Linked DNA regions of Homo sapiens: regions 1, 3, 4 and 5 are each linked to region 2. A link means that fine-mapping ties the variant in region 2 to the expression of a gene that starts in the linked region. Tissue or cell type: whole blood. Region 2 holds a variant in brackets; each other region holds the start of a gene. Each region is shown on its reference strand, or each on the opposite one. Region 1 holds the start of NFIL3 (nuclear factor, interleukin 3 regulated). Region 2 has its middle 54 kb from the start of IKZF1. Region 3 holds the start of IFI30 (IFI30 lysosomal thiol reductase). Region 4 holds the start of ZBTB47 (zinc finger and BTB domain containing 47). Region 5 holds the start of TNFSF13B (TNF superfamily member 13b).

Region 1 (5,979 bases), not on the chromosome of region 2:
GGCACCTCCTCCCTTGCCCCTGCCCTCAATCCACCCCTAGCACTGAGAGGTTGCTGAGAGCAAGAACCCCTTCCTCCTCCTCCTGAGAACCTTACAGCCCAGCTCCACCATCAGGCACATGCTGATGTCTTCCTAGAAGCCTCCCCACCCTGGTTAATTTGTTTCAAATATCTTAGGTTTTTATGCTCCATTTACTCGAGTTAATCTGCAAATACTTACCTACTCTGTGAATGTTCTAGGATATAATATTAGATACATCATCACTTCGGCCCTGGGGACAGATCCTTCATCCTGTTGTTTAGTGGTGTCCTAATCACCAGGAGGAGCTAAAGAGTTGTTTTCTAAGCTGGTATCTCAGATACCTTTCACACTTCCTCTGATTTCCAAGTTAGATGGTAACAATGAATGATGCACAGATATAATACATACACAATCTAAAATACTCCAAGTAAATATAGGAGCATTCGATTTCAAAATTCAGCATAAAGAATAAGTTTCCAGGTTGAGAGAACTCCTCCAGCATCACTGCCTGGGGTGGCTCCAGGCACGTTCTTTACCTGTCTTGAAGGTCGAGTTGTCTTTAAAGAAAGACATTTACTACAACGGCTTTGAAATTCCATGAAATTATTCAAAATGCAGAACAAGGTCAGAACACGTGAAGGGGAGGGTAGATTATGCAGGACAGCCCTGGATTTCTAGACAATAGCTGCATTTCTGACCCCAAAAAGGCAACTAATATGGATATGATTTTGATTTCATCTAAGAGAGGTTCTCAAAGCTACAAATAAGCATTGTAAGGTTTGGGCAAAAAGGAAACTATCAGTAAATTTGAGAAAAGTGGCCAGGCACAGTGGCATGCGCCTGTAATTCCACTACCAGGGAGGCTGTGGCCGGAGGATCCTTTGAGCCCAGGAGTTCCAGGCCAACCTGGACAACATAGTAAGACCACATCTTGAATTATTATATATGTATGAGAAAAGTGGAAATTATAAACTAAAATCAGGATTTGTTCTCATGAAGGTAGTCAAGTTTGGAAAATGTGTAGTGGAGGGGATGTGGTTCTTGCATTAGTCAGCACCGGGAAGATGGTGTCGGGGAACACGCTAAGCCCATATTGTACGTCTGAGTTTTCAGAGCCTTGTCAGCAGAGCTGTACTACCAGATAAATCACGAACAAGAGTGCGTTCAAAACCACAACGCTGCCCTGGAAGGCTTTCCAAAAACTCAACTGATAGGTGATAAAAATTTTTTAAATATGACTTGCGTTATTATGATATTAACTGTGCAAGAAGGGGAAAGGTAGAAAAGACAATCTTGGCGAGTAGATAGATCTGCTGCTCATGGCAGACACTAGGGATGGTACCTGGGTGTTCACTCTGCTCTTCTCTTTACTTTGGTTTTTGCTTTTTAAAAACGAAAGGAGCAAAAAGAAGTGGAAAGTCGTGGAGGCACTCGGCCCAGCCCCCACGTAGTTCAAGGAGACCAGGAGGGAGCTGGCTGGTGGAGGTCCTGCCCACCTGCCACACTCCGTATTTGGGCAAGCCTGTGAGTCACTGTCGGGAACATGGCTCCCTTCGCCAAGGCCAGCACTGACCACTATCCGTGTATCGGTAAACGCAGGGAGTGTGCCACGTGCCTTGACAGTCTAGCGCGACGACTTAAGAAGTCGCGGCTAGGTGCTCTTTTTTCCATTTTTTTACGTCTCTTCCGTAGCCCGGGAATTTGGGAGAGAAGACTACCGTATCCAGTTAGACGCAGAAATAACACTAAGCAGCTATCAGCTCAAAATCACAGGAAGAGATCCCGCGCGGTCGTCTCAAGCCCCAGCACCAAACGACAGTGGGCGTCCCAGCGGGGGCACCCGAGCGCGGACCTTCACATCCTCCGAGGAACGCCGCACCCGCGTGGCGGGGGTGGGTAGATGGACCTCAGCGAGCCTCGTTTCCCAGTCGTGTTACGCAACAACTTTGCAGCCGTCATCTTCGCCCTAATTGTGCAGGGGGCGGTGTTTGTGCGTGGAGCTTTCCCTCCCGGCTCCGGGCCGTCGCGGCTCTCGGGAGAGGCGCCGGGACATTTTAATCGCTGCCTCCGCCGCGCAGCCCTGCGCAGCTGCCCGGCCGCGCCAACCCCTTCCCCGCCGCAGCGCGCCCCGAGTGTTGGCAGCTTGCCAGCCGCCACCCCCCGCCTTCCCTCCTGCCCACCCCAAGGTAGAGGGCTCCTCTCGGGAGTGTGCGGGGAAGGGGAGGCCGAGGTCCGGGCCACGCCCGGGTAGCCGCAACCCGCAGTGCTCAGTCGGCAACAGGTAGCCCAGCAGGCTGCGGCTCTCAGGAAGACAAAAAGCGCCTCTGCGAGCAAGTGAGGGTCGCGGGGAGCGCAGAGCCACCGCGGCGACCGGGAGGGTGAAGGGAGCCAAGAGCGGACGGGGCGGTGGGACGGGGGGCTCCCGGGCTCCTCCGCAGGCTCGCTCCGGTCGTGTCGGCCGCGTGGGCCGTTGCGCAACACTCGTTGCGCCGGGAATGGGGCGCCAGCCCTCGCGGGCGCTCGGACGGCGGTGGCCCTGGCCGGGGAGGGACGCGAGCTGGTAGTGGCGCCGCCGCGGAGGGGGAGCTGAGGGCGGGGAGGCGGGGCGGGGCCGCGGAGTGCCCGCCCCGGCCCGCCCCTGCCGGCCGCGGCCATTGGCGGCGGGCCGGGGGCGGGTGCGGGCGCGGCGATTGGGGCCGCGGCCGCCAGTCACGCGGGGCTGGCGGGCGGCGACGTAGCGCGGCGCTCGGAACTGACCTACTAACACACATCTCTCCGCGCGGCCACGGCGCCCGCGGACCCGGCGCGCCCGCCCGCCTCCCGCGCCGCGCCCTCGCCGCCGCCCGCCTCCCGCCGCGGCCCCGGAGGCCCGGCCCGGCCCGAGCCCCGAGCGCCGGCGGCCCGACTCCCGGCCGCCCCTTTCTTTCTCCTCGCCGGCCCGAGAGCAGGAACACGGTAAGCGCTCCGCCCACCGCCGGCCGGGGGCCCGGCGACCGCTCCCAGGGCGCGCTGCGGGCGGGCGGGCGGGCGCGGGGTGCGGGCCGCGCTGTGTGCGGGGTCGGGCTGTAAGCTGGGCTCGCCAGCGGCGGCGAGTGCGCGCGGGGCATTCATTACATAAACTTTTGCTGCCTTGTCAGGATGGGACTCGCCACCTTAAGGTGGCTGCTTTGATTGCAGCGCCTTCGCGCCGGCACGTAGTCCTGGCTGGTTTGCGCTCTCCCCCCGCTGCTGTTGCATAATGTCTCCTGATTTCAGGAAAATTGATGTTTTGGTAAAGAAGAGCGCCAGGCAGGCTGAGCCCTCTCCGAGCGGGAAGATGCTCTTTCCTCTCTAGTGTCTTTCTTTCTCGTTCCTTCTCTGGGGCTGGCGGCGTAGGGGGGAGAGGAATGGGGGGTTGAGGAATGGGGAATAGTCTTAATTTGCTTGGTGAGAAAAAGGGTTGGTAGCGTGAACGGTGACGGCATTCGGAGAATGCCTGCGCGGCGTTTGTTTGTGTCAGGGGCTGTGTCTGCACAGACGTTTTCCACCCTGTTTGTCGTCAGCGTGTTTTACAAGCCCTCGGGAAGGTTGTGGGATTTGTCCTTTCATACATTGCATAATCTGCCCACGGTGAAATGTTGGCAAGAATTGCGGGCTGATGTGGGAATATGCGCGTATGTGTGCAATGATTTGGTAATTGAGGCGCAGCGTTGGATATTAGATCGTTATTTACGTCTATATTACGTCCCAAATAAACAGGTTTTAAAACGATACTACAAAACCTAAAAGCAAGAATTGCTCGCATTGAATTCTGATCTTGGGTACTACTGGGGTTCGCCCTTTCAATGTTCTCAGCTGTTATTTTTAAATCTGGGACGAACCATTGTGACGTTTACCTCCCCACCTTCCTAATTTTAATGCATTCCATTCGATCAGCCCTTTTTCTCACCTTATTGTCATTGCTTTTTCAGACACGACAAGACAAATCACATAATAGTTTCCTGGAAATGTTGCATTATGTAACTGCCGAATTTGCTGGCAGTGAGCATAGAGAGAGGGAGCTAATTACGTGATTTTATAATCTTGCTACAAAGAAAGTAGGACAGTCTCAGCCTTTAAGAATGTCACTATAACAGTTTTTTTTTTTTCCTTAAGGATATTTTAAACAGGAAAGTAGACAACCGGGTAAGCATGGAGTTTGCTCATGCTGCCGAATGTGTGTCTTTTGCCCTAAATGAAACGCACGTTCTTCTAAATTTAGCCCTATCACATTTTAACAATTGTGGCCTCGCAGTGCTATTTCTGGTGTTTTCTCCAGGGCTGTGTGCAAATACAAGTTCAAGGCCATTTGCTGTAGTTTTAACTCCACGCCTTCGGAGACCTTTGATAAGATTGTATTTTTAGGAAGGCATTTCGCAGCGCCCGGTGATTTGCTGGATGCTGGCTCCCATTTATGTTTTTAAAGGACACTTTAGGAAACTGCTGTTCTCTGAGAACAGCAGGGAATGGCCAAGTGTCATCTTCTGTTCTTGGCTTTTGTAAATAACAACAGTAAGTGAGGTCAGAAGTATTTATTTACCCCCAGACCAGATATGACCTATGGGAAACAGATATAGGTTAGTAGATTGTTTTTTTGTCTGGATACCCTGGTTTTACTTATGTGAAGATGTGTGAATATGTAATTTACCCAAATATTAAATTTCTTCCTGGACTGTTACATAGTGATTATGTGTGAATATATGTATATGATGGGATGTATATATAACGTAACATTTAAATTAAGTGCAGGGTTTTTTTTTGTGGGAGGTGGGGGGTGGACGTCTCTGGAACAGAGTATATTACCCCAAATAATTGCAGTCGCTTTCCAAGAAGCTAGTTGCTCTAGGCCCCCAGCTTCAGACCCCGACCTACTTTGCGAGCTCGGGTGGGAGTCCCAGGCCTGTAGGGGCCGCGTGGCGCCACCTTCCGATCGCGATCTCCAATGGCGAGTCCGTGCGGCCCCCAGTGCGCCGCTCCCTCCTGCGGGCCGGTGGGGTCTGCGAGAATCCGGGGCTGGGGGCGGGTCTGGTAGTGGCGGGCGGGGACCTCGGGTCGGGACCGAGAAGCGCCTCCGAACGGCAGTTATACTGGGGCTGCTCAGTGGCCTGAGCTCCTCCCTGCCCCCTCCCCACATTCCTTTGTTCTGGCGCGGGGGGTCCTCGCGGCGCCGAGGCCCCGCTGCGCCGCCCACCCGGAGGGAGGAGGGTCTCTGGGAGGCGCCGCGTGGGGGCGCGGCCCGTGGAGCCCGGGCGCTAGGGACCGGCCGGGGCCGGCGTACGGGTGCGCTCTGGGTTCGCCCGGGCCGCGGGAGCCAGGGAGCCAGGGAGCCAGGGACCCCGGCTCCCGCACGGGGCAGACAGGGGCAGCGCGGGCGACCCGGAGCGCCTGCGTCTCCGCGGCCCTCCTTCCAACAGGGCAAATCCAGGGGCCTGACTCCGCGCCTGTTCTGCGGTGAGGTTCAGAAACCTGCAGACACCTTTGTTCCAAGAGTCTTCATTGTATTTCGGAACCAAGCGCGTCTCCATTCTTGAAGTGAAAAAGACCTTAAGAAAAACCTCCAAACGTCCACCGGCCACAGAAATTGGGGGTGGAGGCGCTCCAGTATTGATAGTGATTAAAAGGAAGGCCTCAGCTTGACTTTGGCCAGTTGAGTTGAGCCGATTTTTTTTAACCTTTAATTTATGTGGTCAAAGGCTAGAGGAGAGAGAACACTGATCTCCAGAGTTCAAAATAAAATCTAAACGCCCACATAGACGCTGCTGTCCTACTGTAAAACTACAGTACTTTCATCCTCGCATAAAGACTTCCAAGATTGTACCCATGCAGTAATTCATGGAGACATCACAGATGTTCTCCTGAAGCATATCAACGCAATCTGCTCTTTGTTGAAAACTGACCGAAAACTTGCTTTCTTTGGCATCATACCCTACACCGCTATCC
Region 2 (5,979 bases):
GATTAATCAAATAAATATTAAGAATAATGAGAGCTAGTTTCTTATTGTTGGAGAAGGATGTTAGAAATATAAAGGAACCAAACTAAAACTATGGTTCTGAATTGAAATCGAAGCTATCTGTAGATTTGTCCATATTATCACCTATGTGTAGGTATTTATACAATGATATGCCCTAGCTCTGTCTCCAAGAAATAGTAGAAACAGCAACATTCAATAGCAATGAGTACACCTAGATCCAGCTCTTGGTTTTGCAATACCATTTCCACCAAATGGGAACCATGGATCTTTGGAATAATGGTTGATTTCAAAGCTAGAACAGAGAAAATATGACATGAGCTTGGAATAGTTTGCTGTGATAAAGTAAGAAAGTTGTTAAGGTTTGAAAAGGAACACATTAAAAGGACACAGAAGAAAACTTGAAGAGGGTCCCACTGTTCAAATCTAGAAGAATTTAAACATTAAAATACATCAGTATAGTAATGGATTGTAATCCACTGAATTTAATAGGGAACCAATAGTTCATAGTGATATAGACAATAAATAAGTGAACAAATTATAACTTTAATGAGGCATGGGATATTTGCATAGTCTCTCAAAGCAGCTACCCATAAAACCCTCAATTAAAAAGGAAAAAAACAATTTTACAGTGAAGAAACATGACACTTACCACTTTAAGCAATCAAAGTCAACATCACTAGTAATGAAACAAATCGAAACTGTGTTTCACTTGATAGGACACAGCAAGACAAATCACAGCACAGCAAATCATGAGGAGACACCAGGCAAATCCAAATTGGGAGAAATTCCTAAAACACCTGGCCTGTATTCTTCAAACCTGTCAAGAACATGAAAGTCAAGGAGATACTGAGTAACTTTTTCAGGTTGAAGAAGACTAAAGAGAAATTATAACTAAAAGCAATGCATGTTTCTAAACTTGATCCCTTTGCTATAAAGGATATTTTGGACCAAATGACGATACTTGAATTGGGTTTGTGGATTGAATGGCAGTCATATAACAATTTTAGTTTTGTATTTTGATAGACTTATGGAATATGTTTTTGGGTAATTTATTTGTTTTTAGAAAATGTACTCTAGTTTGGGATAGATTGAGCATTATGTCCACAACCTGCCATCAATGATTTGAAGGTACAAACTTTTTAGTAGTGTTCTTGAAACTTATCTCTAAATTTGAGATTGTTTCCAGAAAACATTACTGTAAAAAGAAAGAATATGATCAATTTGGAAAAGTGCACATGGGTCTATATGTTTGTAATGTAAGATACATGAAGAAATAAATATAAGGTACATATTAGGTTTTGAAAAAATAGTGGGAGGTAAAGCTAGAGCTGTATTACAAAGAACCAAATGATTCTTATGTTTGACATTTTAGGATTTTATGGAAAGGAATGTCATGATCTTTCCATAAAGGATGGCATTTTAGAAAACAGCATTCCTGTAGCTTAACAGAAGATAGAAGGAAGAGGGTGGAGACACTTTAAACAGACAGAGTGACTATTTACAAAGCAAGTTAGAGGCAGACCGGGACTCAGGAAGAGATGCTTCAGATTTTGTGTCCATTGCATACATATTACAATTACAAGCCAGCAAGAACGGTTGGAGGGAATGGGTTAATTCTAAACCAAATTGTAATGGGACAAGGAACAACTGGGAGATAAAGAGTGGCAGATTTGGCAATCATGTATCATAATAGACACCTTGGATTTTTAGTTTTTTAATATACCCAGATCATTCCTAAATCATTCAGAGAAGCACAGCTCTATTGCCAAACATGCAAGGCTGTCCTACTGCCTCAGGCCGGCATGTCACCAGGCAGGCAGAACTGAAGCTGAGAGCCTATGGTTGGGACATTCTGACAAGAGTTGGGGAAAGAATGTTTCAGGTATCTGGTGGTACTTGTGACATTTGTGGGAGGTCTTGGGACCATACCAGCGAGGGCTCAGGATGGCAGATGTTTAATGCCACTCCATAGAGGCAGGTTCTGGAGAGGAGAGATGTGCATCGGAGTCTAGGGAACAGAGCTGAGGTTGGATGTCAACAGCAAACCATTGGGAGGGTCTTAGCAGACAAAGAAGGGAGAGCACATGAGGGCCAGTGACAGTGCAGTCAGAGGTGAGATGATATGCAAGCTGGTCCAATGGACACACCCCCCAACCTGTTATGTGGCTGCCCCTCCTGCTCTCTGTGGCGTCCTGAGCTAATCAGGCAGGAATGGAGACAGGCTGAGCAGAAACAGAGCTTCTCTGTTCCAAGAATGTCCTGGGCCTTTCAGAGGCATTATTGTGCTTAATACTTGCACTAGCCCACCAGGTGGTTATTTAGACTTCATTTATACATAGTAAACCTGAGGCTAGGCGCAGAAGCACAGTACTTAATTCAGTGGGAATCCAATGCTGTCTGACTCCAAAGCCCTAGAACTTGCTTCTGCAGCCCTG[G/T]CACTTGGCTCAGATCTACTTACAAGCAAGAAAGCTTGTAGAGTGATGCCCAGGACAATGGCAGAATATGTTCCTTCCATAAAGCTGTCAGAATTATAAAATTCAAGATGATGGAGAATCTTCGTATTTTTACCAGTAATCAATGGTGTATCCTAGAATTTTAGAATTCCAGGACTGGCTGAACTTAGTTGCCAATTTATCATTTTTATTTTTAACTGGTTTGCAAATTGTAGCACACGTAATTGAGGCAACTTCACAATGAGGACATTGGATATTAAAGCTCATGGAGGATCTATTAACTTTTTTTTATTATACTTTAAGTTTTAGGGTACATGTGCACAAGCTGAATGAAATGAAGTTTTAGTTACTTCCTATCAATGCTGTTCTCTCTCCTTCATGAATCTATTGCTTCACAGAAAATGTCTTAAAAGACAGAAAACAAAACAACAATAACGAAAAAACACAACCCCTGTCATCTGTTTTAAAACAGTTCTTATAATAATGATAGTTTACAAACTTGTGTGACTTTCAGATCATAATAAAGCATAATAAGTACTGACTATGCTTGTAATAGTTTAACAATTTAAAAATCATTTTAGTGACTATTTTATCATCATCTAAAATATAATCTCTCACTATGGCTACAAAAATAGATGGCAGCTGGTTTGCACATTACTATGATTTTGTGATATTGTTATTTGAATTAATTTGATCATCAGAGTTTTGGACACTGAATGGATTTTAGGTGCACTAAATGAATACATTGAAAATATAGTCAGTGTGACTGGTTTTGCTTTAACTTGAGGGACTTTGATTTGCACTTAAAACCACTTGGCTTCTTCACTCTTTTGTTGGACTTGCTTTTCATGGTCAAGGAACACCCTTTGTAACACTGGTTACACAACCGCCCTCCTGTGTGTTAGGCACAGAAAGTACTCACTACTCCTCTGTCCCACAATGTCCTAGGCACTTGATATTGTCAATCTTTAAGCTTCTTGCCACTGTAATATAATTGTGGCTTTGATTGGAATTCCCCTGCTTACTAATGAGATTGAGCATCTTTTTCATATTTTATTTTTCTCTTGCATGAAGTACCCATTGAAGTAATTTGTTCACTTCTCCATCGAATTGTCTTTTTTGTATCTATATATTGGGACTCTTTTATATGTTTTAAAAAATACTTGCTCAGTGATCTGTGTTGTAAATATTTTATTCCGATGTGTATCATCTTTTCACGTCTTCATTGTACCTCAATTTTCAGACCAATTGGTTAATCATTTCTGCGAATGTGTTTTTCGACTCTTTAAGAAAGTTTTCCCTATACATGGTAATAGTCTACTACATTGCCTTTCAAAACTTTTATAGTTTTGCTTTTAACATTTATGTCATAAATTTACCTTGAAACGATTTTAGTGTATTATGTGAGATAGGAATCCTAGTTCATTTTCTTCCCTATGTAAAAGTAATTGTTGCTGTCCATTTTCCCATGTTCTTCAATGCTAGCTGTCATAACTGGGTTTCTATTTTTTTGTTAAGTCTGTTTCTGGGTACTCTATTCTGTAAGTATATTTGTTTATCTCTATACAAATAAAACATATCTCAATGATCATATTTTTATAGTATGTCTTGATATGTGATAATGTCCATCCTTCCAATGTATTCTTCCCTTCAGCAATGCTCATTTTTGACTGTTGGCTCTTACATATAAATTTTAGAGCTAGCTTGATGTAACCAATTACCTGCTGGAAATTTGGATTTTTCTTGAATAGAAGGATGAATTTGAAGATAATTAACATCTTAATATATTAAGTCTTCCTATACAGATATCTAATTTTTTTGTTTAGGTCTTCTAAATTTGTACATCTATTAATATTATGTTTATTCCTAGGTAATTACAATTTTGGTTTCTATTGTAAATTTCATATTACTTAATATTAAATTTCCACACTGTAAATACTTTTGGCTGAGGTATACAAATGCAATTAACTTTTCTCTATTTATTTTGTATCACACATTCTTTTAAAATTCCATTATTTAATTCTAATAATTCATCAGCAGATTCATTTGGATTTTCTACAGAACATCATATTATCTGCAAATAATTATGGCTTTGTTCTATTCATTTAAGATGTCATTCTCTTATTTTGACATCTTACATGTCATTTAGATGTTCTAGTCATTTACGAGCCATTCTCTTATTTTGTATCCTCTTCTTGTATTTGATTACTGGCTACAGTCTCAGATATAATGTTGAAGGAAAGTGTGATATTAGGAATCGTCATCATGCAACTCATTTTAAACGGGAGGCTTTTAACAGCCCACCATTAAATACGATGTTTTTCCTAGGATTTTATACGATGTTTTTCCTAGGATTTTAGTAGCCTCCTTCTATCAGTTTAAGTAAGTTTTCTTAATTTCCTACTATTCTGAGCAATACTTTCATGAATAATGAATGCTATTAAGTCGCTTTTTCTCATTTTCCCCATTTATGTATAAATATTTTTATCTATCAATGAGTTTTCTGATGCTAAACCATGTAGTTATAAGATGAAACCCTACATAGCCATAACATTCTATACATGTTAGATTTCATGCTGATGTTCTTTCTCTTGTTCTTTGCAGATGAATGAGATTGGCCTATGCTTTTTTTTTTTTCACCTGTTTATTCTTATCTGGTTTTAGTATTTGGAGCAAATTAACTTCATAAACTCAACTAAATAGTATTCTTTTCCTCTGTACTCTAAAAAAGTTTGTATAAGGTTAGAATTTTTTGAATAAATTGTGCAGGAATTTACTTGTACAATTATCAGGCATGATATTTTCTTTTCTCAAAAGATTTTATGCTACTGATTCAACAGATTTAAGGGATGTTGGACTGTTTGATTTTTTTTTAACTCTCCTTGAGTTATTCGTTAAGTTATTTTTTTTCTAGAAATTTGTTAATTCTAGTTTGGTTTACATATTAAATTGCCATCAGGTTGTACTCAGTATACTCATCTTTTTATTTCTTGAAGCATCTATAGTTTGAATTTATTTTCCTTTTCAGAAGTTGCTTCTGTGCATTCTCTTCATAACGTGAAAATTTTCATTAGAGATTTCTTAATTTCATGAGATTTAAAATAAACCTGTTGTTTTGTTTTTCTAATCTGTCATATTTTAGTTCTGTATTTTATTAACTTCTGTTTTTATCTTTACCATTTTGCCCTGTGTACTGTCTTTGGGTTTATTCTCTGCAATTAAAATAGGGTGATTCCCTTTCTCTCTCCCTCTCTCTTTCTCTTTCTCGCTTTCTTTTTTTCTTTCCTTTCTTTCTTCTTTCTTTCTTTCTCTTTCTTTTTTTCTTTCTTTCTTTCCTTCTCCTTCCTCTTCCTCTTCTCCTTCCCTTCCCTTCTCTTCCCTTCCCTTGCCTTCCCTTGCCTTCCTTCCCTTCCCTTCCTGCCTCCCTCCCTCCTTTCTTTCTTCTTTTCTTTCCTTCCTCCCTTCCTTCCTTCTCTCTCTCTCTTTCTTTCTTTTTTTCTTTCTTTCT
Region 3 (5,979 bases), not on the chromosome of region 2:
GCGACAGCCCTGGGGCGTAGAGCTGCAGGCACTGGGTGGGTGGGGAGCAGGGGGTTGCCTCAGCTTCCTCCCCGTTATCTCAACGGTCCCGCCCACCAGCCCTGAGCCAAGCCTGTTTCGTCACTGAGAAGAGGGTACAGTTGGCTTCACAGTGATGCGACAAAGCCCACAAACAGCAGGTGCTCAATACATGCTTGAGTGGAGGCCCCTAAGGCAGGGCTTGGGCTGCTCCTGCCTCCTAGCTCCCTTGGTTTCATCCCTAAGACCAGACCCACTGCCTCTGACCCCCATAGTATCTCACTTTACTCAGGACCTCCACACAGGCTGATCCCTCTGCCAGGAACACCCTTCATCCTCCTTCCACAGTGTCTCCTCAGTGCCCTCTCCTTGCCACTCTCTCAGCCCTGATCTAACCCTGCAGGACTAGGGTGTCACTAGGTGAGGCCTCTTGGGTGACCCGGATGTTTGATGAATGAATAAATGATTGGAGCCAATGAGTCACTTCTCTGGGAGTCATTCTTCACAATCCCCCGGGGAAGTAGGTGGGGTCTGTCCTATCATCTCCACATCCCATCATCTGTGTCTCTGCACATTCCTGCTCATCCTTCCATGCCCAGCTCAGAAATGCCTCCTCCAGTAAGTCCTCTGTGATCACTCATGCTCCTAAGAGACCTGCATTCATTCCCCTGATTCAGAGATGGAGGCTTCAAGAGGGGAGGCTGGGGCCGGGCGTGGTGGCTTACACCTGTAATCCTTTGGGAGGCTGGGACAGGCGGATAACTTGAGGTCAGGAGTTTGAGACCAGCCTGGCCAACATGGTGAACACTGTCTCTACTAAAAATACAAAAATTAGCCGGGCATGGTGGTGCACACCTGTAGTCCCAGCTACTGGGGAAGCTGAGGCAGGAGGATCACTTAAACTGAGGAGACAGTGGTTGCAGTCAGCCAAGATTGCACCACTGCACTCCAGCCTGGGCGACAGAGCAAAACCCTGTCTCAAAAAAAAAAAAAAAAAAAAAAAAAAAAAAAGGGCTGGGTGCGGTGGCTCACGCCTGTAATCCCAGCACTTTGGGAGGCCAAGGCAGGCGGATCACAAGGTCAGGAGTTCAAGACAAGCCTGACCAACATGGTGAAACCCTGTCTCTACTAAAAACACAAAAATTAGCTGGGCATGGTGGCACACAACTGTAATCCCAGCTACTCAGGAGGCTGAGGCTGGAGAATCACTTGAACCCTGGAGGTGGAGGTTGCAGTGAGCTGGGATTGCGCCACTGCATTCCAGCCTGGGCGACAGAGCGAGACTCTGTCTCAAGAAAAAATAAAAAAATAAATAAAATAAAGAAGGGTAGTTGTTTTCCTGGGCTGCACAGACAGCAGTGGTCAGGGCTAGGACTTGAATTTGGGTCTGCCTGGATGCAGGGAAGGTTACCACCCATGTCCCCCTCCTTGGGTGGAGTGAGGGGCGTCACTCACTAGTGGCAGACTTCTCTCCATGTCCTCAAACTCTTCCATGCAGACAATGGTCAGGAAGGCTAGCTCCATGTCAAGTTCATCCAACACGCAGGCCTGGGGTTTGGAGAGGGGGCAGGAGAGGGCATGAAGAGGGCCTAGGGTACCCTGACACCCTCTCGTAATAATCACCAGTACCCACCCAGGAGATAGGGAATAAAGATGTGATTAAATGGGAGCACACGAGGCAGAAGACAGAGCTGGCATCCTCGTATTTGCCTCCTGTACGTGGGACAGTTTTCCCCCACCCCAGTGTGGGGCCCTGGGGCCGCTCACCTCCACCTTGTTGAATTTGCACTCCTCTTCTCCATGCTGGCACTTGAACTCCCACCTGCCACTGACATTTTGTTCCTGCAAGGCAGCAGGGTGAGAGCCTGCTGGTAGGCTGGGTCCCCTGCTCCCCTGCCCACGTGCCTCAGTTTCCCCAGCGCCCACACACCTGTGCGTTTCCGTAGGGCACCAGCGTGACATTGAGGATCTCCATGACCAACAGCCATGTTGGGAAGAGCTCCCGGATCAGGAAGGCTCGGCAGCCACCGCACAGTGCTTCATAGTAGAGGGTCACATTGACAAGCGGTGCATTGGACTTCTTCAGGGGCCCCCGCAGGTATAGATTGCCTGTCTGTGGATTAGGAAGGCGTGGGAGGCAGGTGTAGCCCTGGGCAGTTCCCCACTTCTCTCAACCCCACTTGGTAGTCTTGTAGAAAGGGGGCTGTGATACGCAATTCATCTTGCACGCCTTCCAGAACTTGCCAGGTGGAATCTTGACTTTGAGACTTTTTTTTTTTTTTTTGAGATGGAGTCTCACTGTCGCTAGGCTGGTGTGCTGCGGCACGATCTCGGCTCACTGCAACACCCGACTCCCTGGTTCAAGCAATTGTCCTGCCTCAGCCTCCTGAGTAGCTGGGATTATAGGCACATGCCACCACACCCAGCTAATTTTTGTATTTTTAGTAGAGACAGGGTTTCTCCATGTAGGCCAGAATGGTCTCGAACTCCTGACCTCGTGATCTGCCTGCCTCAGACTTCCAAAGTGTTGGGATTACAGGCATGAGCCACCGCCTCCGGCCTTGGCCCATGCTCATTTCTTGTCACTTCACCTGGAGACCTTGCCTCTGAGCTGAGCAAGGGATCCACGTGAACCCTTTCCAAGTCCGACTGAATAGAGGCGGCACCTAATAGGTGCTGACTTCCGGCTTCAGCTGAGGGGTGGCGGGTGGCCCATGTCGCTGGAGCGGTGAGCAAGTCGCTCAGCCTCTAGGGCATCTGCCTAATAGGTCCCAAAGACACGCGAGCCCTGCCCTGGCTGGAATGAATGCATCAAGGGTAGCAGCAAGAATGCATGCCGGCGGCCCTTGGCCAGCTGCTGAACTTGTGCCCTGGGCCACAAAAGGAGACCCCAGCTCCTGCCCCAAAAGTACACAGTAGGCGCTCATTGAACCCTTGGGCGGGACTAGGCGGGTGGAGGCAGCTGCGCCTCTCAGATGCGGGATGCGAAAGCGAAACGGCACGGAGGGAGTGTGGCCGCAGCGCCGGGAACTGAACAGGGTTTTTCCAGGAACCCGGCAGGGACAGCGTCCCCTCGGGGCCCTGGTCTTCCCCTGTGAAGTCTGGGGAGAAAGAAGGAGCCGCGTGCCCCGACAGGGCGCCTGTTCCCTCCAGCCTGCCCGCCCTGTCGCCGTCCCTACCTTGTAGTTAACTGGTGGCCCATTCCCAAAGAAGTCTAACGCTTGCAGAGGGGACGCCTGCACCGCCGCCGTGGGGACGTCCAGCAGCAGCAGCAGCGGTGGCAGGAACAGCAGAAGTGGCGACAGGGTCATCGCAGCAGGGGCAAAGGTGTGGCGACTGCAGCGGCTGCCTGGGAAATAAGCGCCTTTAACCAGGCGGCGGTCCCGCCCCTAACCCGGGCCCGCCTCCCGATGCCCACGCCCCTCGGGTCCCGGGCCAGCGTCTCTCCCTCCTCCACTCCTTCCTCTGAGTGTCCCACCCCCACCCCTGCCAGGTGCTGGGTCCCCAGTCACGAGGCCATTGGGCCCCTTGGCAATCAGCCCTGCCCAGGCACGTGAGCCCTGGCGCAAGACTACCTTTAGGGGAGGTGAGGTGGGGCCTTTGAGACAGACACAGGCTGAGAGGAATGGTGGTGTCTCCACGCACCCCTAGACCTTCTAGGGGCGGCTAGGGGACTTGAGGCCCGAGACCCACTCTCAGAGTGGGCCTGTGACCTAACAGGGGTGACGTCGGATGGAGGCTGGGGATGGGATGGAGGCCGGGGTTTTGGGGGAGTAACTGAAATATTCAGGCCCCCGAGAGTGGGCAAGGCCTGTGTGGCCAGGTCTCCTCCCTCCAGTCTCGCCCGTGACCTCCCTCACACCCAACCCCCACATCCTGCCCCTCAACCCTTCCCCCCTCAAACTCCTGACCCCGACGCTCCAGACCCCTCACCGTGGTCCCGTGGGACTGACTCAGGCTTGACCACAGCCACGCCGGAAAGCAGAAGCTGGCGCAGGGAGTGGCGTGTCATTTCTCTAGGGTACCCACCCAGCCCCACTTCTGGCTTGGGGTGAAGAGAACTGGCCTTCCTTCTTTTCATCGTTCAAGGCTTGTGGGGGGTGGGGGGCAACCTGGCCTTCAAGGGACGCCCATGGGGGAGAGAGGCAGCCTGTGCTGTCTGGGATAGGGGTGGGGTGGCTTGGAGTCCACCTGGCTTTGGATTTGAGTGACAGAGCCTCAGCTTTCCCTTCTGTGTAATGGGGAGAAGGATAAGGTTTGGGGAACAAGAGTCACCATGGAGGGCTCAGAGGCAGGTGGGGGAGAGTTGTCCCAGGCTGGGGCTTCTGGATGGCATGGTCAGGCCTTGGTGCCTACACAGGACAGTGGCCCCAACAGTGAAGGCAGAGAGAATAGCCTGGAAAAAAGGCCCAGATGGAGGCTGGAGTGTTGGGGGAATAACTGAGACATTCCAACCCTGCCAGGCCTTACATTCAGGGCAAGACACATCGGATCCTAGGGAAGAAAATGTCCCACACCCAGCTGGAAGATATACCTGAGTCCCCAGCTGTGCCCCCCTCTAGTTGTGGGGAAGACCCTGGCCACACACACAGTAGCTGGTTTGGGAGCCGGAGCTTCTCTGAAGTCCCAGTGGCTGGATGGTCCCCGAGCCCATCCCTCAGACGACCAAACCGTTGGCAAAGGCTCCCCAAGACTCACCACCCCAACTTTGGTGCTTACCCTATGCCGGGTGGGATTGAAGAAATAACCATAAATATAATTGCTACAATTTTTCCAGTAGTTACCAGGCACCAGCCCTATTGGAAGAAATCATAAATGTAACCCTACAATGTATTGCTCTCTGGCTTGGTGCCAGGCATAGAGTGGGCCTACAACCCATTTTATCATTGAACCCTCAGAAGCATCCAGTTGGGGCTGGGGGTAGGTGCTACTGACTCCAGCTGGTAACAAATAAATGGCTGATCAGAGAGGGAAGGCTATTTTGCCAAGGACACACAGCCAGTGGTTGAGTGTTTTTAGAGACCACACGGGATATTCTCTTCCACCCCCAGCTCAGCATAGCTGGGATCATAAAGATGGCAACCTTTCTCCTGTGAGCACCTATGCAGTGAGAGGCACAATCTGGGCTGGAGTTATTTATGGGTTATCTCCAGACAGGACACATGGCAGGGACAGTGCCTGGCAAGGCTAGGGGGCTCTGAGGCTAAGGGAGGCAGGTCCTGTCCCAAGGTCCCAGCAGTAGACTGGGTCAGAGTGGAGGTTTCTTTCTGCACTTGCCCCAGGTTCAGCCTTGTTGGGCCTTGAGAGGTGGCTGTACAAAACAGACAAGGACAGTGAGGCCCCAGGGTTGGGGAGGGCTGAAGGGACAATGACGTCGCAGTGGGGGTGTGGATTCTGGGTGTGATGGGGAGGGTGGTAAACAGGAGTCCAAGTCAAAGACGCCATGAGGCCACGCGTGGTGGCTTACGCGACTCAGGGAGGCTGAGGTGGGAGGATCACTAGAGGCCAGGAGTTTGAGACCCACCTGGAAAAGGGCAAGACCCTTTTTTTTTTTTTTTTTCTTGAGACAGAGTCTCACTCTGTCACCCAGGCTGGAGAACAGTGGCACGATCTTGGCTTGGTGCAGCGTTGACCTCCCAGGTTCATCTGATCTTCCTATCTCAGCCTCCCAAGTAGCTGGGATTACAGGCATGCGCCACCATGTCTGGCTAATTTTTTTTTGTATTTTTAGTGGAGACCAGGTTTTACCATGTTGGCCAGGCTGGTCTCAAACTCCTGACCTCAAGTGATCTGCCTGCCTTGGCTTCCCCAAGTGCTGGAATTACAGGTGTGAGCCACTGCACTCGGCAAGATCTTGTTTCTAAAAAAATTTAAAAATAATTAGCTGGACATGGTGACACACACCCGTAATCCAGTGACTCTAAAGGCTGAGATGAGAGGACTGCTTGAGGCTGGGAACCA
Region 4 (5,979 bases), not on the chromosome of region 2:
CGGCTCTACCACAGCAGCCTCCCCAAAAGGTGGGCAGCACAGACAGGCAGCCTGCCCAGTCCCTGCACGAGAACCATCACACAGTGATGTGCAGATGTTGTTAATATCCACCAACCACCAGCCCAGCTGGACCAGCACCACTGGTTCCAAGTTCTGGCTCTCCTCAGGGCCTGCCCAACCAGGTCTGAGCCTCCTGCATTCGGGAGGTACCTTGCCACAATATTTTGATGGCCACAAAACCATCAGCTCCATAGCTGTCAGTGCCTCCCTGGGGACCCTGGGATGAATCCTGGCCCCATCCATCCACAGCCTACCGCCCCCCTTCCCCATGCCAGGCCTTCCATCGCCAGGAGAGCAGTGGGTAGGCTGGGATTGGGCAGGGGTGGTGGTGGTTGAGCTCCACTTCTCAGTCACCTGAATGAGAAACCTACCGTGGGCCTCAGCAGGAGCCTCCCTGAGCCACCAGGGGCCACCTGTCTCCAGGCCTGCCCTGGACCCTGCCCCCTACACCCAGCAGCCAGGGCAGCAGCCATCCTGTGTTCCCTCACATCCCAGTCTGGCCAGGCCCCTGGCCAAGGCTACCATCTTCCTTGAGTTCTCCACTACACCCCTTACCCCAGCCAAGAAGCCATCCATCTCCCTCTGTCCCAGGCTGTCCAGGCCTGGCCAATCTAACTGGGACGTGGCACCAAGCCCCTCCCATCTCCCTCCTCTGACTCATTCTGATTCATCTTCTGGGACCAACCCCTACTACACAGATGGAGAAACCGAGGCTCAGAATGAGAGGGTTCCACAGTCCAGAGCCCCTGGACTCCCAGCTCCGCTAAGACCACCCCTTCCTTGCTAGACCCCACATGGCTGGATTTCTGAGCCTTTAATGACTTAAAAAGCGAGAACATCCCGCCACCTGGAGACCAGCCGTGCTTCCCCACACTCACCACTATCCCCTCTACCTGCTCCCTCCTCCCTAGAGCCACTGCACCTGCAGGTCAGTGAAGGATCAGGGTACAACTTGGGTTGCAACAGGGGCTCCTTAGGGCCTCCAGGGGCCAAAGACTGGCAGGAGAAGTGGCTTGGATAAGGGTTTGCTGAAGCCAGGCCTGTTGGGGGAAGTCCACCCCAGGCAACAGAGCCCCAGATCTCTCTGCTCTCCCTTTATGGAATGCCCTCCACTGCCCACCTGTGCCCACCTGCCACAGGGAAAGGGCAACCTTCCCATGTGCACTTTGGCCTCTAGGCCAAATGAGGCCTGACTTTGGCCCTCTGGCCTCTCAGCAGGAAAGGAGGGGAGTGCTTTCTCAAACACTCCATTGCTAAGGTAGTACTCTCAGCCAAGGCAGCACCATCCTTGGCCCTTGGGGGGCCCTAAACCTCATGACCTGATTGGACTCTCTTGACTGGGCACAGAGATGCTGCCCGAGTCCACAATTGGCAGCCCCTCAGCAGGGTTCAGCCACCCCCATGTCTGGCCCCTCCCACACAATGCCCACCAGCTGTGCTGGCCTCCACAGCCAGATGTGCTGGTTCCCGGAAGCAATGCGTGCCCCTCCCCATCCGGCTGTGCCAGCTGCAGTCCAGGTCACTCCAGCCTAGCTAAGATGCAGGACCAGGGAGGTGGTCAGGCACTCTGGTTGCCAGGGGGTTTCATGCCCTCAAACCCTTGCCCCAAGTCAGGCTGGGGATTGGCCAGGTGCCAGACATCTCTCCAGGCTGCTCACCCAAGTCAGAGCCTTCTACACCTGAGGGGTACCTTGCCTCACTGATGAGAAGCCTCATCTCTCTACCCTGCCTCAGAGCCTCCCTGGAAGGCCCCATGATGAAACCTGGGGAGTCCATCTGCGCCCCCCTCCCATGTCAATTCTTTCTATGCTGGGCAGCAGTGGGGGGGCCCAGACTGAGCAAGGGGGCACAGGCTCATGACCTCTAGGCTCCTCCTTTTGGTGAGGGAGTGTCCATGCCAGCCTCCTCTGTGCACTTACCTCCCCTCTTTCCCTTGGAAATAGACCCAGAGAGGGCGGGGGATCTGCCCAAGGTCACACAGGAGTTGGTACGGGAGCTCTGGGTGTCCTCCCACACCCCCTTGGCCCGGGTCATCCCGAATCCCCAGGCAGGGCGGCTCCAGCGCCCACGTGGCCCAAGGCCCAGGCGGGAATCCGACTCCCTCTTCCCCCCATTACCCAGCCCGAGGGCGGCGCCGTCCGGGCGCAGGGGAGCGCCCCCCTTCGCCGGTGCCTAGCAAGACCTCAGCCTCGCGCGCCGGCGCCCCCACCACAGGAATTTAACCCCCTCCCCACCGAGAGCAGCGCCACAGCGCCGCATTCCCGGCCCGCGGGACCCAGCAGATGGAGCCGGGAGACCGGGGGAGGGGGGAAGATCCCTCCAGCCCCTCCACCCGGGCCCGCGGGCCGTGTGCCTGGGAGGTCAGAGCTGGCAGGTGGGCGGATAAGCGGGGGGACAGGCAGGGCCCTGCGTACCATGGTGCCGTGGCGCTGGGGGCTCACAGGGCCCCGCGGGATCGCGCTGCCCCCGGCGGCCAGGCCAGGGCCGCTCCATGAAGCGCCGCGCTGGGGGCCGCCCCCGCGCAGGGCCCCGCGACCATGGCCCCCGGGGGCGCGGCCAGGCAGGCGGAGGCGCAGGGCCGCGGCGAGTCCAGCGCCAAGCAGCTGCGGCCCCAGAGCCTCGGGCGCGGCGGGCGGGGGGCGCGGGGCGCCGATTGGAGCCCGCGCGTCAGCTGGGGCCGCCGTCTGGACGCTTAAAGGGCCAGGCCGCCTGCGTGCCGGCGGGGGGCGCGGACACGCGTGGTGTGCGCGGTCCCCGTGCAGCCCGCCCTGCCGCAGGCTGCCCTCCACCCCCAGCCCCAGCTCCAGCCCCCAGCCCGTCCCCACTGCTCATATCCGAGCAGATAGACCCCGGCCCCACCCTCCCGTGCTGAGCCTCCTTTCTGCCGGGAAGTTCGTCCGGGAGTCAAACATCGCTGCCCTCCGGTTGCGCCACGGAGGGGGAGCCAGGATAGGAAGCTGCCGTGAAATCAGGAAGCTGAGCGCGCCGGGCCCCGGATCCGAACAGAAAAGGCTTCCACCCGCTCCCCTGAGGGATCCCACGCTGAGGGACTGAACCCCGCACCCCAGCCGCGCTCACCACCCCCACCCTCTCGCCTGGGCTGCTCTGACCTGGGGGTGAGTCTGGGGTCCCCAACTGGTCCAGTCCCCCATCCCTATCCCAGGGCGGCGCAGGGCTCATTTTGCTCTGTGCCTCCAGGACTTGGCTCCAGTGGACCCATACCTACCTGGCGGCCTCATGCTGCATAGGGCCACCCAGGGCAGGAGATTTAAATCCCAGGACTACAACCGCAGCGATCAAATCATCTAAGGTGACTGGCCCAGGGCCAGGAGACAGAGGGACCAGAGGAGTAGGGACCAGAGGCCCAGGCCCCACTGTGCCCCTCTAGCCGTGTGACCTGACCACTGCTGAGTGGCCCCCTTGCTCAGCCTCTGCTGGGGAGATGCAGCCAGGCTTGCGGAATGCTGCTCTGGCATGGACACCCGTGGGGGCAGGGGGCTGGCTCTGTTGGCAGGAGGCTGTAAAGGAAGGCTGCCAGGCTGAGCAGGCAGCAGGGTGGGGACCACGGGGCACTAGACCTGGCAAGGTCTGGATGGTGACTGGGCCACCATTGTAGAGGAGAGGCCTCTGTGGACATCCCCTCCTCCTACCCCAAGCTCACTACTGCCCATCCTGGGTCACTCTCATGTTGCCCCCATCCTGATATTCCACACCCCTCCCCACATATGTGCGCTTGTGTTTACATACAAGTCCATGTCCAGCTGCAGCAGTATCTCCTGGGTATGTTGTCCTACTCACGAGTGGGCAGGAACTCTGGCGCTGGCTCAGGGTGACTTGGTTCTAGGTGCCAGAGGAGAAATGGAGGAGAGACCAGGGTATTAGGCAGGTGCTGTGAAACAGCCTGATGGTCTGTCCTGTAAGATTGCAAGGGCCTCCTCCCCCACCCCCACTCTCTGCCAGAATACGTAGGGCCTCAGGATAAGGCTATCCCAGAGCTAGGGAGAAAATGTCTCAGGGGCCAAACCTGGGGCATCTGGAAGCCCCTGGCAGCTGCTGCAGACATCCTGTACCTGCATGGGTGCACAGACAGCTGGCCCAGCTCCCAGAGGCCCCAGGTTAAGGCCAGGCCAGAGCAGCTTACATGCTTCTGACCAGCTAGCCCGCTGAGGGCTGCCTTCTGCCTCTTCCTCCCCAGCCCACTTCCTCATCTGACTCACAGTGGATCCTAGCACCGGCCCAGGAGTTAGTTAGGGAGGGGCTGTGTGCCCATTGGTTGGATAAGGACTCTGAGGCTCAGAGCGGGACAAATCACTTAGGCATCAGCATCAGGAGCCAGGGGAAGGGGAGGTGGGGAGAAGGGACCCCTCCACGGGCTGGAAGAAGCCTGGCAGAGAGAGCTGCATGGGACATTGCTAGGCCCACTGCCAAGCCAAAGCTTGACAGAGGGTGTGGCCAGCGTGACTGAGGTAGTGATGCTGGCCCTATGGGGCCTTGCTGGGGCCTTAGCTCCAGCAGTCAAGCTGCAGAAAGGGCTGGAGGTTGGGTGAGAAGGGAGGGGACAGGTGGTGGGGAGGCACTCAGTCTCCCTGAAGGCCTCGGCTGTTCCCCTCTTGCTTCTCTGGCCTGCAGCTCATCAGCTGGGGAGTCCCAGGGCAGAGCCTGAGCTCTGTGAGCAGCTGTGGGCACCTGGCAACACTGGACCTGGCAGGAAGGAGTGGTTTGAAGAGCTGTCTGGTGGGCCCACAGGGCTGCTCAGAGCTGAGGCTTGAACTTGAACATTAACTAGAGCAATGAGGGAGTGAAAGGGCTTTCCAGACAGAAAGCCTGCAAAGGCCAGGAGGTGGAGACAATTTAGCATCTGCAGGGAACTAGAGGGGATTTGGTGTAGTGGAGTCAAGATTCCTATCGATCAGGAGTTGTCTGGTTGGTGGGAGTGAACAGGTGGAGCTAGGCAGAGGCAGAATTTCTCTCTTGGTCCTGATGAGGGGCATGCAGTAGGAGCTTCACTTCAGGGAGGTCAAGGCAGGCTTTCTGGAGGGAGGGACTGAGTTATTGGGGAGTTGACTCCTGGGCCAGAAATGCATGCCCCAGGGGTGAGTCAGGAGTCTGGAGACGCTCACCCAGCAAGGGCAGAGCTTAGTGATCCTTCACATATTTGGGATTGGGTCCTGACAAGGTCAGCAAAGCTATGCCCCTGCCTCTAGAAGACAGCTCATGGGTTTTCTCTCAATTTCCCTAAGTATCTACCCTCAGTGCTGGAGTGTCCCCAGGCTTAGTTGGGGAAACCAGATTCAACCCCACTGAAGTTAGAAAGAACAGCCCAGGTTGTGGGTATGCGTATGTGTGTGGGAACAATGCAGGACTGAGTCAGCCCGGAGGGCATGGAGCTGTGTGTAGCTGAGCCTGGGGAAGAGGGAGAGCAGAGTGGGCAATGCCAGAAAAATACAGGCAATGCAACTCAACTCGCACAGCATGTGGCCAGTGGGCTGGCAGGGAAGTTCAAAGCTACCCACTAGGCGCTGATCCGAAGCCCAAAGTTCTAGTAGGGCGGGAAAACATGAATCCCCAGGGTGTGGGGTGGGTTAAGGGTGGAGTTTACACCTGAATTCTGCCTCCACTGAACCCAGCACTAATAGGCTACAGCTGCCCTGGGTTGGGGGCCTCATGCAAACCGGTAGGTTGCCTGGTTCCCTCACAGCATAAACATCATGGCTTTGGCATTTCACGTCTCTCTTGCAGCTTCTAGGATCCTCTCCTGCCCTGTTGGTTCTGGGGGCCTTGGGCCTCTCCCTAGTGAGTGAACCTGGCTCCACACATGAACCCTCTGGGACTCCTTCACTTCTCCTAGAGTCACCACCTCAGGGGCCACCACCTCTGAACCACTGATGTATGCTTGGTTTTCTAAACGTTTAATACACC
Region 5 (5,979 bases), not on the chromosome of region 2:
GCAACACATCAAAATAAATGTGAGATATTGTTTTACAACTACTAAACTAGTCAAAATACACTTTAAAAATAACATGCAAGCAAGAATGTGGAGAACCGGTACACCACATTTTTGATTGCATGTATAACTCATTTTGAAAACAATATGGCAGTCGGAAGCAAGGGTGATGAAGATGTTTCTTCTCCCTAGCTCAGATATTCCACTATATGAATTTTATATTGAATATATAATTTCACAGAAATAAAAGAGTTCTGTGCAAAACTTTTGCATGTTGTATTATAGCAAAGAGAATGGAAATAACCATTTAAAACAATTGTTAGATAAATTAATACAGATATATGAAAAATACTTAGAAATAGGAAAAATCCTTATTGTATAAGTCAAAACAAAAAATATTATAGTATATATTCCGTATTATTTTCAATTATGTAGGAAATATAGACTATAAAATGCAGACGATAAAAATAATTGATGTGTTAAAATAATAAAAATGTGCATGTTTCCTAATTTAAAAATGTTTAAGCCCAGTTATTCCTGATAACTAGTATAAAGATACAATAACCAGATACCAAAAATTATGGTTTTATAAAATAAGAAACAATTTTTTATGAATAAAGCATATAGTCAAAAAATAAGTTTATAGTCAGGGTACCTCATGCGTGTGTGTGTGTGTGTGTGTGTGTGTGTGTGTGTGTGTGTGTGTGATAGAAGGGTCCCTGGTCTATCTCTCACTACATTTCTTATGCAATTCTCTTCAGAAGTGAAAATATACATAAATTATTGCATGTATTCTGTGGACTTCATAGCGTCACTGTGAAGGTTAAACGAAATAGTATGTTTGAAAATGCCTATTCTGGTCTATAGCTGTACGATACGTTCCAGGTGCTCAAAAAATATTCTTTCAATATATTTAATAAAAGGACAATAATATTAAGAATTTGTTATATTATAACTTTAATAAATGTATACAAAGATTCTTTTTTTCACCTTCAAATGAAAGAACTAGAATCGATCATTTTGGTAGGCCCCACCAACTCTGTAAAGTTCCGTGGAATGAGCAGAACATGAAGAAAGTCAGAAATCAGTAAAGGACGATTATAAGAAGACGATAAATGCATGGATCCCCTGGAAAAGCGTACCTTAAAGAGAAGCTTTAAAATCTGTGTGTGTGTCTGTGCGTGTGTGTGTGTGTGTGTGTAAAATAACCTTTTTAACAAATAAACAAAATTAAAGTACAACATACAGGGCCTTTCATTACAACCTTCACCTGGTTTCACAACATGTAATGTACATTCAGAAAACAGATGTCTTTAACTTTCTATGACCCAGGTAGTAAGCAAAGTCTAATTCTAACATGTAATGCTTTTTTTTATTTTTCTGGAGTGATGAATAATGCTTCTCACATGGGAGGGCATTATCTACCTGAGGAAACACATATGGCCCTTTTATCTCCTCTATGCTTAATGCACAGATAAATACTTACACACGCACAGAGAAATGCTTCCAGTCACACGATCTGCTCATTGGAGGAAAAAGCACACCCATGCAGCCTGTTACATTTGCCAGCGCTGGGGCTTTGCTCTAAAGCAATGTCTGCTTTGGATGGCAAATTTCATAGTCTCTATTTAATAGGTTCATAGAGGGGATACTCACCTCCAGCTCCCCCAGACTGGATGTTATTCTCTAATCCCTGACTCCTAAAAGTGTCTGTGCCCAAAACATACCTGTTTCTTCTGGACCCTGAACGGCACGCTTATTTCTGCTGTTCTGACTGGAGTTGCCTTCTCCTGGAGCTGGTGGTTCAAAGATCTATGAACAGAAAAACTTCAAGTTATTAGAAAGACAGCTGAGGCGAGGGAGAGGCAGCAGTGTAGGCAGGATCTTGCCTGCGTCTTGCAGCTGCTGCAAACTCACTTTCAGTCCCGCGGTGACAGCTGGAGCTTCCTCCAGGCCGGCCTTGGGGGCTCCTGCTCCTGCTGGCAGCTTCTCCGCGTGGTGGCCCTGCAGCTCTGCCCGGAGGCTGGCCAGGTCCCCTTGCAGGGCGGCCACCTGGTAGAAAGACACCACCGTGAGGCAGCAAGACAGCAGTGCCAGCAGCAAGGTTGCAGCCAGCAGCTTTCCGTCTTTGGAGGATCGGACAGAGGGGCTTTCCTTCCGTGGGAGGATGGAAACACACTCCTTCAGTTTCATTTCTTCTCTTTTCTTAAGGCAAGAAGTAAGGCGTGACTGCTCCCTTTCTGTGGAGTCATCCATATCACTACTTGAACTTTGAAGGTTGGGGCCTTTAGAATAAGTGACCACAGGGAATGGATCATTTCCTGTTATCTGTGTTTGTTGATGTCCTGCGTGCACTACATGGCAGGGCTTGGCTCACCCCTCAGGAGAGTTATCCTGAATTTTCTCCTTTCTGCCTTTCTGCATCTCTACCCCTACTGTACAGTAGGTTTGCTGGCATTTACCCTCCGATTGGATTGCTCAATCTGTCTTCCTCATTTCACTTTCAGTTTTTGTAAGAATTTCAAAGTCTTCTCATAACACTCATGCTCAAGTAGATTTAAAACCCCTTAAATCTGCTGAGGAAACTTGGAGTTTGGATTGGCACAGTCAAGGGAAAGCTTTTAAGATATGCTCAGGTCTGAGAAGCCCACCCTTAAGTGTAGCAAGGGAACTCTGTCTGCTTGGGACCACATGGCTTCATAAGGAAGGGGGAAAAGCAGCTGAAAGTTCCTGCTGCTGTCATAAAAATAATTAATGTGAAGGTCAGATAAGCTAAGTGTTTTAGCATTGAATTGTTCTTAGCTAGAGAGTGATTTATTAACAGTCTTCAATTATGAAATAAAATGGAGAATCCTTGAAGGAAGTGTGGAAGTAAGTCCACTGGGAATTATTCATATTATTATACTAATAATGTCATAAAAAGAATGAGAGTAAATGTTACAGACGTATTTAGGTTAGATATCTGAAGGATTCTCTAAATATAAGTGAATATATTTTTAAGGAAAACATGCATAAACTTTTTCCTTCTGGGACTCATCACTGAAACTCAATCATGCATATGAACAGCCTGTCCCAAGGAGCCTGGTCTCAGCTTTTCTGCTCAGACTTCTGAGGCTTTAAGTCCCCGCTCAATATGATACTAGTTGAGGAGAATCAGCCTTGCCTCCAGCTCCAAATGCCTGACTGCTACCATTAACCACTCTCAAGTAGCTTGTCTACAACTCCCATGTTGACTGTGCCACAGCCTAACAGGTCGGTGTACAAGAGGTCCTTGATCACACAAGAGCCACCTTAGCTTTGGATTTTTCTGTTGTTGACTTGGTGGACCTGTGAGGACTGTTGCATTCATTCTAGTCCTGCCTTATCCTGATGGCTGGTTCCTGGACATTCCCCAGTTTTTCACTGCTTTGCCCCAGCATTGAAATATTGATTCATCTTTCAACAAACGTTACTGAGCACTTACCAAGCCCTGGGTAGTCACTACTCCCCTGTGGACTAAGAATAGTGAGCTTTAGTTCTGTCTCACTCTACATTTCCACACAGTCTTAAGTAAGAAGTTTACAGAAATGATATAGTGCAAAGTGGAGAACTCCAGACCCAGGCTTCTAGACTGCAAATCCTGCCTCACCCTCGCTCTCCTTATGCAAAGTACATAATCTCTCTGTGATTCCATTTCCTCACCTGTGAATTCGTATGACGATATTAACTGTCCCTGGGATACATAATGAGGCTTACAAGAATGTGGAAACAAATTACATTTTGGATGCTTCCATTTAAAAAAAAATTATTTCCACAGGTTTTTGGGGAATAGGTGGTATTTGATTACATGGTTAAGTTATTTAGTGGTGATTTGTGAGATTTTGGTGCACCCATCACCCGAGCAGTGTACACATTGAACCCATTTTTTAGTCTTTTATTCCTCACCCCCCTCCCACCCTTTCCCCTGAGTCCCTAAAGTCCATTAGATCATTCCTATGTCTTTGCATCTTTGTAATTTAGCTCCCACTGTGAGTTAGAACATACAATGTTTGGTTTTCCATTCCTGAGTTACTTCACTTAGAATAATTGTCTCCAATCCCATCCAGGCTGATGCGAACATCATTAATTCATTCCTTTTTATGGGTGAGTAGTATTCCATCATATATATGTATCATAGTTTCTTTATCCACTCATTGATTGACGGGCATTTGGGCTGGTTCTATATTTTTGCAGTTGTGAATTGTGCTGCCATAAACATGTGTGTGCAAGTATGTTTTTCGTATAACAACTTCTTTTCCTCTGGGTAGATACCCAGTAGTGGGATTGCTGGATCAAATGGTAGTTCTACTTTTAGTTCTTTAAGGAATCTCCACACTGTTTTCCATGGTGGTTGTACTAAATGATCAGGGAAATGTAAATCAAAAGCACGGTGCAATGCTTCCATTTTTTCATTCACTTTTATTCTTTACATTCAAAGTATGAATGAAACATTTTTCAGTTACAAACAGTGCTCTAATAGATATTTTCTACAACTGTGCTTGTAACGTCTGCAAGGGTTTCCCAGCAAATGCCTGCTGAGGGAGAAGCACATCTTCACTTTTACAGGCACCACCCAGTTACCCTCTGACGAGTTCCCATTTCCTCATTGTCTTACTACAAAATGACGCAGTCAGACTTACTTGTTTTTACCATTAGGATTGTTTTTTGTTTTTTGTTTTTTTCCCTTTGCATCTGCAAGTTTCCAAGACCTTTTAAAAATAACTTGTTATTATCCTGGCCCCCAAAATAAGCTGCTCTCTAATTTTTCTTACCTATAACTCCCACAATAAGGTGACCGTGCCCCAGTCTAACAGGTACGTAGACAAGAGGTCCTCCATCAACCTTCTCAGGTGGAAGTCTTCTTTTAGAAGGATGTTTGTAAACCCTTTTGCATCAGGAATGACAGTCCAATTCTTTTCTGTCAGTTCTTGTTCCAGAACAATTAGGGTGAGTCATACGGAGTAACCTTGCCATAAAAAATGGAATTCGTATGGGAATTGTATGAAGGCCTTCTTACTGAAAGTCATTGAGATCCTTTAGATGATGTGTTTGTGTATTCTTATGATTTAAATACATGCAGAAATGAAAGGATGCAACGCAGTGCTAGAAAGCAATTTCTCTCTGCGTTTCACTCAGGGTTTCCTGTAGCCACTGCTTCTCTCCATCCATGGACATTCTCCCTCTTCTGGTGAGTCGTTCCCCTCTATATCCCTCAGAGAAAATTCTGAAGACAGGGAATGATTTGACTGCTTTAGGGAATTCCCTCTGCCTTCGTCACTGTGTTGGGCAGAGACTTTCATGCCTGAACATCTCAAAAGAGAGTCACTGGCCAGCCTGCACGCAGCCATTTTTAAACCAGTGCCGATGTTTGTTGCGGCAGTGAGCCGTGCCATGCATAAAATGGGCAAGTTCTTCTTCCACAAAGGGCAGCCATCATGTCCCTCTGGCTAGAGGGACAGCAAGCAGGGATGGCAATGTGCACATCCTCCACAGGGATCTGACAGCTGCATTTTCTCTAAAGACAGGTAGAAAACGAAGTGACATTCATGACTCTTGAATCTCTTATTAGATGAACAAAAGGAAGTCATTACTCCATAAATCAAGAATCTGTTTCCGGAAGAGGAAATGGTTTGGCAATAATTTAACAGAAATTCTGTTAAACAAGAAGCATGTTCACGTTCATTGAATAATACACCACATCACAAGTTTATTCAGGGACAAAAGGCCACTGTATCTGAGCCACAGATTGTGCAGCGATCTTATTATACATTCAGTGTTTATTGACAGTATTTAGCTGCTTTTTACACACATCTTTTTCTCAATGTAAGTGTAAAGCATTCTTCTGTCATTCAATAAACAAACTGAGATACTAGGACTTTGTGACTGACGAAACTGTTCTATCCACTCAGAAATAGGCAGATAGGATTCAAAAGAATATAACTTGTGAGTTTGTCCGGGAGTCAG

The links. PIP is the estimated chance that this variant, and not a neighbour inherited with it, causes the effect.
Region 1: NFIL3 starts here. The variant in region 2 is the best candidate, but not a certain one, in a credible set for the expression of NFIL3 in whole blood (TOPMed, PIP 0.80).
Region 3: it holds the start of IFI30, and the variant in region 2 is the best candidate, but not a certain one, in a credible set for the expression of IFI30 in whole blood (TOPMed, PIP 0.56).
Region 4: it holds the start of ZBTB47, and the variant in region 2 is fine-mapped to the expression of ZBTB47 in whole blood (TOPMed, PIP 0.91).
Region 5: TNFSF13B starts here. The variant in region 2 is the best candidate, but not a certain one, in a credible set for the expression of TNFSF13B in whole blood (TOPMed, PIP 0.71).

Annotation. Positions count from the first base shown.
Region 1 is chr9:91,420,637-91,426,615 of GRCh38, reverse strand. NFIL3 (nuclear factor, interleukin 3 regulated) reads left to right here and starts at 2,784. Exons shown (of 2, transcript NM_005384.3): 1 at 2,784-2,976. LOC124902209 (a long non-coding RNA gene) reads right to left here and starts at 4,994. Exons shown (of 2, transcript XR_007061661.1): 1 at 4,912-4,994; 2 at 4,557-4,597. It overlaps LOC105376146 (synapsin-1), which reads right to left and starts at 2,583. Exons shown (of 2, transcript NR_188612.1): 1 at 220-2,583. RefSeq lists silencers at 1-136, 2,447-2,846.
Region 2 is chr7:50,248,176-50,254,154 of GRCh38, reverse strand. No RefSeq gene overlaps it. Among named protein-coding and RNA genes, the nearest start is that of IKZF1, 54 kb to the left of the region's middle. The variant G/T (reference allele first, on the strand shown) is at 2,454.
Region 3 is chr19:18,171,192-18,177,170 of GRCh38, reverse strand. It overlaps IFI30 (IFI30 lysosomal thiol reductase), which reads right to left and starts at 3,358. Exons shown (of 7, transcript NM_006332.5): 1 at 3,198-3,358; 2 at 1,949-2,131; 3 at 1,786-1,860; 4 at 1,474-1,566; 5 at 1-31. The coding sequence starts at 3,329. RefSeq lists enhancers at 2,131-2,796, 2,924-2,993 and a silencer at 3,304-3,613.
Region 4 is chr3:42,651,191-42,657,169 of GRCh38, reverse strand. ZBTB47 (zinc finger and BTB domain containing 47) reads right to left here and starts at 3,473. Exons shown (of 6, transcript NM_145166.4): 1 at 3,287-3,473. It overlaps ZBTB47-AS1 (ZBTB47 and NKTR antisense RNA 1), which reads left to right and starts at 2,782. Exons shown (of 3, transcript NR_125400.1): 1 at 2,782-3,176. RefSeq lists enhancers at 499-793, 2,858-3,499 and silencers at 2,373-2,452, 2,493-2,852.
Region 5 is chr13:108,266,170-108,272,148 of GRCh38, reverse strand. It overlaps TNFSF13B (TNF superfamily member 13b), which reads right to left and starts at 2,431. Exons shown (of 6, transcript NM_006573.5): 1 at 1,915-2,431; 2 at 1,725-1,809. The coding sequence starts at 2,253. RefSeq lists a silencer at 1,526-1,605 and enhancers at 1,506-2,014, 1,966-2,395.